2 separate regions of the Homo sapiens genome follow, and region 2 is linked to region 1. A link means that fine-mapping ties the variant in region 1 to the expression of a gene that starts in the linked region. Tissue or cell type: whole blood. Region 1 holds a variant in brackets; the other region holds the start of a gene. All regions are shown on one strand. Distances are between the middles of the regions.

What was found. PIP is the estimated chance that this variant, and not a neighbour inherited with it, causes the effect.
Region 2: it holds the start of CD101-AS1, and the variant in region 1 is fine-mapped to the expression of CD101-AS1 in whole blood (INTERVAL, PIP 0.95).

The regions. Positions count from the first base shown.
Region 1 is chr1:117,016,998-117,021,213 of GRCh38, reverse strand. CD101 (CD101 molecule) reads right to left here. Exons shown (of 10, transcript NM_001256106.3): 5 at 3,741-4,124; 6 at 2,654-3,058. It overlaps LOC124904386 (a long non-coding RNA gene), which reads left to right. Exons shown (of 2, transcript XR_007066499.1): 1 at 1-2,102; 2 at 2,780-3,121. Among named protein-coding and RNA genes, the nearest start is that of CD101, 17 kb to the right of the region's middle. RefSeq lists an enhancer at 2,383-3,582. The variant C/A (reference allele first, on the strand shown) is at 2,042.
Region 2 is chr1:117,057,537-117,061,752 of GRCh38, reverse strand. It overlaps CD101-AS1 (CD101 antisense RNA 1), which reads left to right and starts at 2,263. Exons shown (of 4, transcript NR_110786.1): 1 at 2,263-2,380. TTF2 (transcription termination factor 2) reads right to left here and starts at 1,427. Exons shown (of 23, transcript NM_003594.4): 1 at 1,379-1,427; 2 at 1,196-1,298. The coding sequence starts at 1,406. RefSeq lists an enhancer at 1,727-1,886 and a silencer at 2,307-2,356.

The DNA.
Region 1 (4,216 bases):
GGTATTTAAGCACAAGCATCTCTTCTGTCATATTTCATGTATCAGATTGGGAGAAAGTGGCCCTATTAATGCTGTGTTTGTGTGTTTACTATGCAGAGTACTTCTGGATTCACAATTTCCAAACTCTAGTTGTATCTGCCTTCAAACGTGGGTAAACAAAAGGAAGTTGTACATGAGTGATTAAAACTGTGTGTGTCTTTGCAGTCACTTAACTGTGGGAACATTGTATAGATATGGAGCCAACTAATCTTTGACCCCAGCAGCTTTTCTGCTTTGTCAGAAAGATGAGTGACAATCCTTGTTCCCAAATCTTCTTCTAGCATCTTGCTGACATCACCCACTCTACTTTTTTAACTGCTTATTGATGTTGCCCATAGGTCCCTTTACTCTTCCTTCAACAAATATTTATGAAGCACACACTATATTATGTGCCAGACAATTCCAGGCCCTGTGGATATCTTCCCTCAGTGGCTCACACTCTAGAGGGAGACAAGTGCAGGGACAGAGGCTTAGAGATGGTGCCAAGTGCCATTTGTAGACAAAGAGCCATTCTACCACAGCACAGTGATATTTGCCCTGATCACTGTCTTCCACATTTAGAATGTGCAGCTGAAATAACTCTTGAGAAACCTTTCTCAAGTGTGAGATTTTTGGTTGTTTTGTTTTGTTTGAGATGGAGTCTTGCTCTGTCGCCCAGGCTGGAGTGCAGTGGCATGATCTTGGCTCACTGCAACCTCCACTTCCTGTGCTCAAGCGATCCTTGTGCCTCAGCCTCCTGAGTAGCTGGGACTACAGGTGCACGCCACCATGCCTGGCTAATCTGTGCATTTTCAGTAGAGACGGGGTTTCACTATGTTGGCCAGGCTGGTCTCAAACTCCTGACTTCAGGTGATCTGCCCGCCTTGGCCTCCCAAAGTGTGGGATTACAGGTGTGAGCCACCACACCTGGCCTCAGTGTAAAATTTTTGTTCCTCATGTCCCTCATGTAAGACAGAGGTATATAGAAGTGCCTATCTGAGCACACAGCAGGGTCTCCTAGCCCAAATACAGGAGTGAGGGGAGACTTCCTGGAGGAGATAATTCTGAGCTGAGTCTTAAGGGTTTATAGGAATTATTCCGATGGAGAAGAGGTTAAGGATTGCCACACAAAAGATGCAACTAGATCAAAGACTTTGAGAGTGAGAGGGAACATGGACAATTGAGGAGCTGCCAGTAATTCAGTGTGGCTGAAGCTCAAATTCACGATGGAAAGTTGAAGGAGATGATGCTGGAAAGACACAAATGTACCAGATGATAAAGGACCTTGCATGTCACACTGTGGGAGTTTAGATACAAGGTGAACATAAGAGTTGTGATGACTCAGGTTTTCAACTTGGGTCACTGGTGAGGAGTGGGGACATAAGGGGCAATGCAGAAGAAAGAGCTTTGGATGATAATGGTGGGTTTATGTTTTGACATAATGAGTGCAGGCATGTCTTGGAGACAGCTGGATATACGAGTCTGGAGATCAGAAGAGAAATTGGTCAAGATAATGAATGTGGGAGTTGTGAACATACAGCTTGTATCCATGGGTAGGGACGAGTCCACTGCAGGAGAGCGTATAGAATGAAAAGAGAACAAAGCTAAGAATAGAATCCAGAGAAACTGTTTTCTTTAAAGAATAAATCAGTGGAGGAGAAAATGAAAATCTTGTGTCATGGTGCCAAGGAAAAAAGAAGTTTCAAGAAGACAGATTGGGGCAGCAATTGCAAATACCACAGAGAGGACAAATTAATTAAGCATGAATTCATGAACAAGGGGATCATTACTATTACCAAAAATGTTGCACAGCAGCAGAGAGAATAATGACAGTGACCACGTTTGAGCGTCATCTTGGTGTGTCAGGTACTCGGCATGTTATATATGTCACCATATTTAAATTGCACATTAACAATTTACAGATCAGGTAACTAAGGCTTCAGCAGATTAAGTGTCTCATCCAAAGCTGTTCTGCTATCCAGTGACTGTCAGATCTAAATGACTCCAACGTCTCTCCATCACT[C/A]TTCCTAAGAGAATGCAAACTATAAGAGAGAAGATACATGACACAGCAGAACTTTGCCTAGGTAGTATCTCACTTTTAACTCCTATGCTCTATTATCAGTTGATGAGATGGATTATATTTGATTGTAATAATAAATTCTCTGACTCTTATACATTAACACCTTACAAAGAAGTAGGTGGATGTATTCCAGTGGAATTTACCTTATCCCTACCACTAGCAGAGACACTGCAAATGTTTACTAACTGGTAAGGCCTGGACAGTGACTAATCCAAAACATTTCTTCTCCCCTCTAGCCAGGTCCTAGAGGCCCCCTGCTGTGCCACGTGGTACCCTTTAGTTGCTGGGTGGTGGGAACTTAGGGGAAAATGGGGAATGGGTAGAGAGCAGCAATTAGCCAGCATGGAAGGTATTTCAATGTTTTAACAACCAGTATGGCCAACCCATGCATACTAACTCAATGTTAACCTGGGTATCATTCATCATGTGGTGCTTACTTAGATAGAACAAATATGGGAGAAAGTATTTTATGTTTTATTGTTATAACTTACCCAAAATGGGAGGATTGCTATTTGTTTGTTTTTAAAACAGGGATTAATTTCAAGTCACACTTACCTGGTAAAGTGACGGCTATCCTCAGTGGGTGAGAGATGGCAGAAGCCCTCGGGGGGCGGTTGTTGTATAGGGAATTTCTGTCATAAACTTCTACTTCACACTGATACACTCCTGTCTCTTCCTCAGTGGCATCATGGACTAGGAGTTGTGAACGAAATAAAGACTGCGACACTTTCGTCTTCTTTTGGAACCGGGATAGGAAATTCCCCCATTCAATAGTGCCATTGTGGGTGATTCGAATAAGCTGGTGGAAGATGTGAGAGCTAGCTGGCTGGAACTGCCACGTCACAGTGAGTGGCACCTTGAGGTCAGAGTAACCGGCCCTCACGACACAGGACAGGTCAAAGGTGTTGGTTAACATCACTTGCGGCTGACGGCTCATCAGACTAACTTGTAAACTTGACTCTAGACAGAAAAATGAAACAGAATTTCTAATATATTTACCAGATTAAAATATAGCACTTTCAAGTTTTTCTAGTTGCCACCTCTTTGACTAGGACCATGCATTTGTACATTTGGAGTTTCCTATTTTATAGAGTAGAAATTGATTCCCAGTACAGTCTGTCCTGAACTGTGACCTCAATTTTGCAAAGTTGATCCTTTTCTAAGACTGTTCCCAGCAGCCACAACAAATAGGCAGTGTTTCTCCAATCTGCTACTTAGACAGCTGCTGCTGAGTGGGTGGAGCACTCCCCACCCTAGTCGTCTGGCCTCCTTCCCTTACCCCCATGCGTGGGTTCAGTATCAGAACCCTTTTGCACATGCTTCAATGGGCTCTGCAATCCCAGGGCCACAGCTGTCAAAAGCCAGAAGGTAAGAGGCTCAGCTATACTCGTCTATAAGCTGATCCATAGGATTTTGTTTTTAACCTTGAACAACAATTTACAAGTTGCACTCTAAAGATGATCTTTACAAAAATGAAGAATCTTTAAAGATTAATTGACAGAGAGGGTAGCCAGAGACTAGCTCTGTGTCCTAGGGTACACATACCATCACTGGGGGATTCAGGATAACACGCAATCCAGTTCCACTGCAGAATGAATTGAGTGATATACAGGTGCAGAAAAGGACTTCCTTTGACACTTACCCAGAGACTTTACAGTAACTGAAATCTTCTGAGTCCAGCTCAGATCTCTGGCCTGGTTCCGAGACTTCTCAGATACTCTGCACTCATATGTGCCACTGTCTGTGATGGCAGTGAAGGTGATCTCCAGCTGGAAGGTGGCCCAGTCCATTTTCTCCAGCCTTGTGTTGCCATGGTAACTGGGTACCCCATAGGAGGCACCCAGCTGCACAATGCCATCCTGCCCCATGCCAGCCACAAACTCGGGCTGTGTCTGGTCCCGTGGGATGTGCCACCAGCTCACAGACAGGGGACTTTCAGCTCCACCAGCCTTACAGAGAAAGGCGAGTGTCTCTCCTTCCCACACAACTTGCTGCTTGTTCTTGGTAGACATGACCACACTTCTTGCTGTGAGTTACAGATTATAGAAGAACAAAACTGTTTTAGGTAAATAAGAAATGTTCTAAAATACAGTGAAATTTCATTAATTAGGACTTGAC
Region 2 (4,216 bases), 41 kb before region 1:
GTTTGTATAGCAAAGCATTTGTGTAGATGGGATCCTAAATAAGAGTGTTTCTCTTAATGTAAAACCAAATCTTATGCCACCATTAATGTTGAATTCCTGCAAAGGTAAAAATGCTTCTATCTCACAAAACTTGACCTGGGTACTATATCTGAGAGGCTCAGTGTAAATCATCTAACTCATGAAACAGAAACATGGGAAGTTAGTATACATGTTGAAAGGGCACTTTTCTAATACTGATATCCATTATGTACTCTACATCTGACACGGAGAAAAATAACTTTTCTCTACCAAGTTTTGCTGAATAGAGAGCAGGAGATGTTTAATGATGTGATGATAGTTTTAAAATTCACATAGAAAATGTAGACACTTGGTACTGTGAAAACATTAACACTTGACAAACTATTAACTTTCCTCACTTTAGAGAAGATGCTTAACATTTCTGACTCTCTCCTCCCACCTCAGCCTCACGAGTAGCTGGGACTACAGGCGTGTGATACCATGCCTAGACAATTTTTTTTAATTTTTCGTAGAGACGGGATTTCACCATGTTGCCCAGGCTGGTTTCGAACCCCTGGGCTCAAGCGATTCGCTCGCCTTCGCCTCCCAAAGTGCTGGGATTACAGGCGTCACACACCGCGCCAGGCCCTCCGTTGTTTCTTCCAGCGCTAATTTCTTTGAATTATCAATTTCACCATTTAGATGCAGAGAATCCTACTTAAAAATAAGAAGGCTAACAACTAATCACTAGAGTGTTTTAAGCTCAAACATTTAAAAAAAACCGTCGGGCCTAAAACTAGTGCAAAACAGGGACAAATTATTTTCCACTATGTCTGCTGTGTGTCCTTACTCCTTTAAAGGGGGAGGGACTGTCTGGGCAGGAGAAGGGAGTGGTTAAGGCCTGTCAAGTGAATAGAAACCCAGAGCTGGAAAACACCGGATCCTCAATTTTACAGGTAGGGGAACCATCGGCCCAGAGAGGGGGGTAACCAGCCTCGGGTCACACAGCCAGAATTAGCTGGGCGTCTTCCGAACACGCCACGCTGCCCTGGGATCACCAATTGCTTAAAGGGTCCTGACACCGCAAACTAGGGCCCCACCACTCCTCGGCCCTGTGACGCCCGACAGCGGGGAGCGGGAAGCTCCTCTCGGGAGGCCCCGGGCAGCCACAGGGAGTGGGGCCCAGCTCCAGACCTACTCGGTGGCCCGCACGAAGCTGCACGTGTCTGCCCGGCACACGTAGAAGCTCTTTCCTTTATTCGGGCCATCGCGGACGCCGGTCTTAAGAAAGCAGAAAGTCCCTGAAGAGAGAAGAAAGTGAACAACGATTACGCCACGCTAAATCAACAGGCCCCGGGACGCTGAGACCCTAGCCCCTTACCGTGCTCTGGACACCTAACTTCTTCCATTTCGCTGGGTCCCCCAAGTTCCACAAAGCCCCGCCCCCAATTCTGCTTCCGCCTTTTACTCCGCCCTCTTTGTTCAGGAACCAACCATCACTCAGCTCTTGCAGTCTTAATCCCTCCCATAATTCTCCGCCCTTGGCCTTCACCCGTCCTAGCCGCTATCAGCCAATCATATAGGAACTTCGCTCACCTCCAACCAATCACAGCTGCCCTCAGGTATGGCGCGCGCCGAAATCAAATACGGAGCCAGGGGGCGTAAAGGACCCGGCTTTTGCAGGCTGGGGCGTGGCTGAGGCTGGGGAGAAGCTTAGAAGGTGGCGGGGCTTCTGGAGGAAAAGAAGCTTCGATTTGCAGGTCTTGGAAGACGGAAGGGCAACTCTTGTTTACGTTTAAAACCGAGAGGCGGCCCTAGGGGTAGCGCCAGTTAGCAGGCGCTGAAAGGCCCTGGCTTCGTGGGTGTCTCTGAGCCAGGCTGGCGCTCGTGCGCGCTGGGCTCCGCGCTCAGTCGCTGGGGTGGGAGGCCAGGGGAAGCCGCCGCTGCAGGCCGAGCCGCGAGATTTGCAGTGCAGGAGCCGAAGCGGCGGGCATGGTGGGAGGTCCTTGGAAGCTGCTGCGGGGAACTGAAACGGCTCTGATAGGCAGGCACAAAGACTTCTCTAGGACCCCCTACAATGCTTTACGTTTGCCTCGTGCTTTAGATTTCACAAAGTGCTTACACATAACACGACCCTCCTCACTCGACCTGGTGAGATGGGTAGCATTTTGTGGAAGATTCCGAGACTCAAGTTTGAGAGACTCACCCAAGGTCAGAGTTGGCGAGTGGGCGGTCCGTGGACAGGTGCGCAGGTCTCAGCGCCATTTGGCCCGCGCTGCTGCTTCCTGTGTGTACTGGATGTTCTCTAGGCTCGCCCAGCGTGGAAGCCCCGAGTTACCAGCCGCAACGTGGAAACCACAGAAGGGGAAATAGATGACTTTTGGTGAAGGCGAATTTTACTTTATCATTTTGTATTGTCAAACTTTTTTTTACTATTATGCTTTTGTAATTTTAAAAATCGAAGACGAGGTTAAATAGAAGAAAGGGGACAGTTCCCTTCTATTTAACTTCATCCTCGATTTTTAAAATTTGAAGTTGTAATCAAAACTATTAGTAAACAGAGAGGAATAGATATTAGATTTATTGCAATAGAAATAGTTTCATATTGCAGCTATTGAGGACCATATGTCCCAGACATATGGTGTGGCACCTGCACTGTTCTTATGGGGGCCGTAGAACAGAAAATCTGTAATGTCTAGGAAATCTGGGCGATGTGATAAATGTACATGTTATGGGGATCCGGAGGAAGGGAGACAAACCTGAGGTATCATTTATTAATTAAACAGTACTTACTAAATAGCTTTTTTGTGCCCGTTGTGGACTAGGTGCTTGAGAAATGTAAAATTCATTCATTCACACACACAAAGTTTGAAACAACTATTCTAAGCACAAGGAACTTACTCAGTATTTTGAGGAGACTGAACTAGTACATGTTGAACACTTAAATAACAATATAAAATAGTATTTAAATGTCAAAATGAATGGAGTTAGCAGTAACTCTCTAGGACTAGAGAAAAATGGAATTTCCAAAGTGAAGTTCCTTTATACATAACTACCCTTCCGAAACTTAGATGAACTTAGAGATAAGACAGGAACAACAAATAGGTAGAAGCATTTTCATTATTCCAAGATTGTTATTCTTGCAAATGATGTATTTGTACATGTTTAATAGATGCTGTATTGGAGGTAGTATACCATGAATACAGGATTTGCAGAAAGAGGGGCATGGTAATTAATTATTTCTTGAATAATTTTCGAAACAAGGCAAAATCGGGGCCTCTTAAATATCCCGTTAAGGAAGAAGCTCCTCCTCTGCAAGTACCCAAGTCGGTATCTCCAGTCCAACCTCACAAAAGTGTGCACAGCCAAATCACAGACAGGAGGAATATTTCTTCCATAAATTAAAAATATACTAGATCAAAATGTTAAGTCCCTGGACAACTTATTCCACCTCATCATATTTACAAGATTGAAAAAAATAAGTTTGAGATTGGACGAAAGATGGTCATAACTGGAAACATTTTTAAAATTAATTTTTATGCCCGTTGAGTATGGTGGTGGGCACCTGCGGTCCTAGCTACTCAGGAGGCTGAGGTGGGAGGATGGCTTGAGCCCACAAGTTTGAGGCTACAGTGAGCTGTGATTGTGCCACTGCACTCTAGCCTTGGTGACAGAGTGAAACTTTGTCTCTTAAAAAAAAACTTATGCCTATTGAAATAAATAATAATGAATTATACAACATACACTTTTCAAAATATACACATGTATTGGTGTATGTGTATTAATTTTTATTCTTAATTTATATTTTAAATTTATATTGTTAATTAGCCTACAGACCCCCGGAGAGACCTTGGGAGAATGTGCTTTATGGATCTCTATTTTGAGTAAAGTTTAGAGTTTGTTTTTCCTTAAAGCTTGATTTATTCAAAATAATGTCTAGGCTGGGTCCTAGATTTAGATGGCTTAAAATGCACAGGTTAATTATCCAATAAATTTGTTCAGTATGGAGCTGGTCAAATGCAAAGTATATGTTGGAATTGTTCTAAAACTGGATTGTGGTAATGGGTGCACAATTGATTAAATTTACTAGACTCTTTGAATTGTACACTTTAAATAGGTGAATTCTATGACATCTAAATTATACCTTAATAAGGCTGTTTTAAAAACTAAGCAATGCCAAAATACCTATCTGCTGCATTGAAAGTAATAACTAAAATTG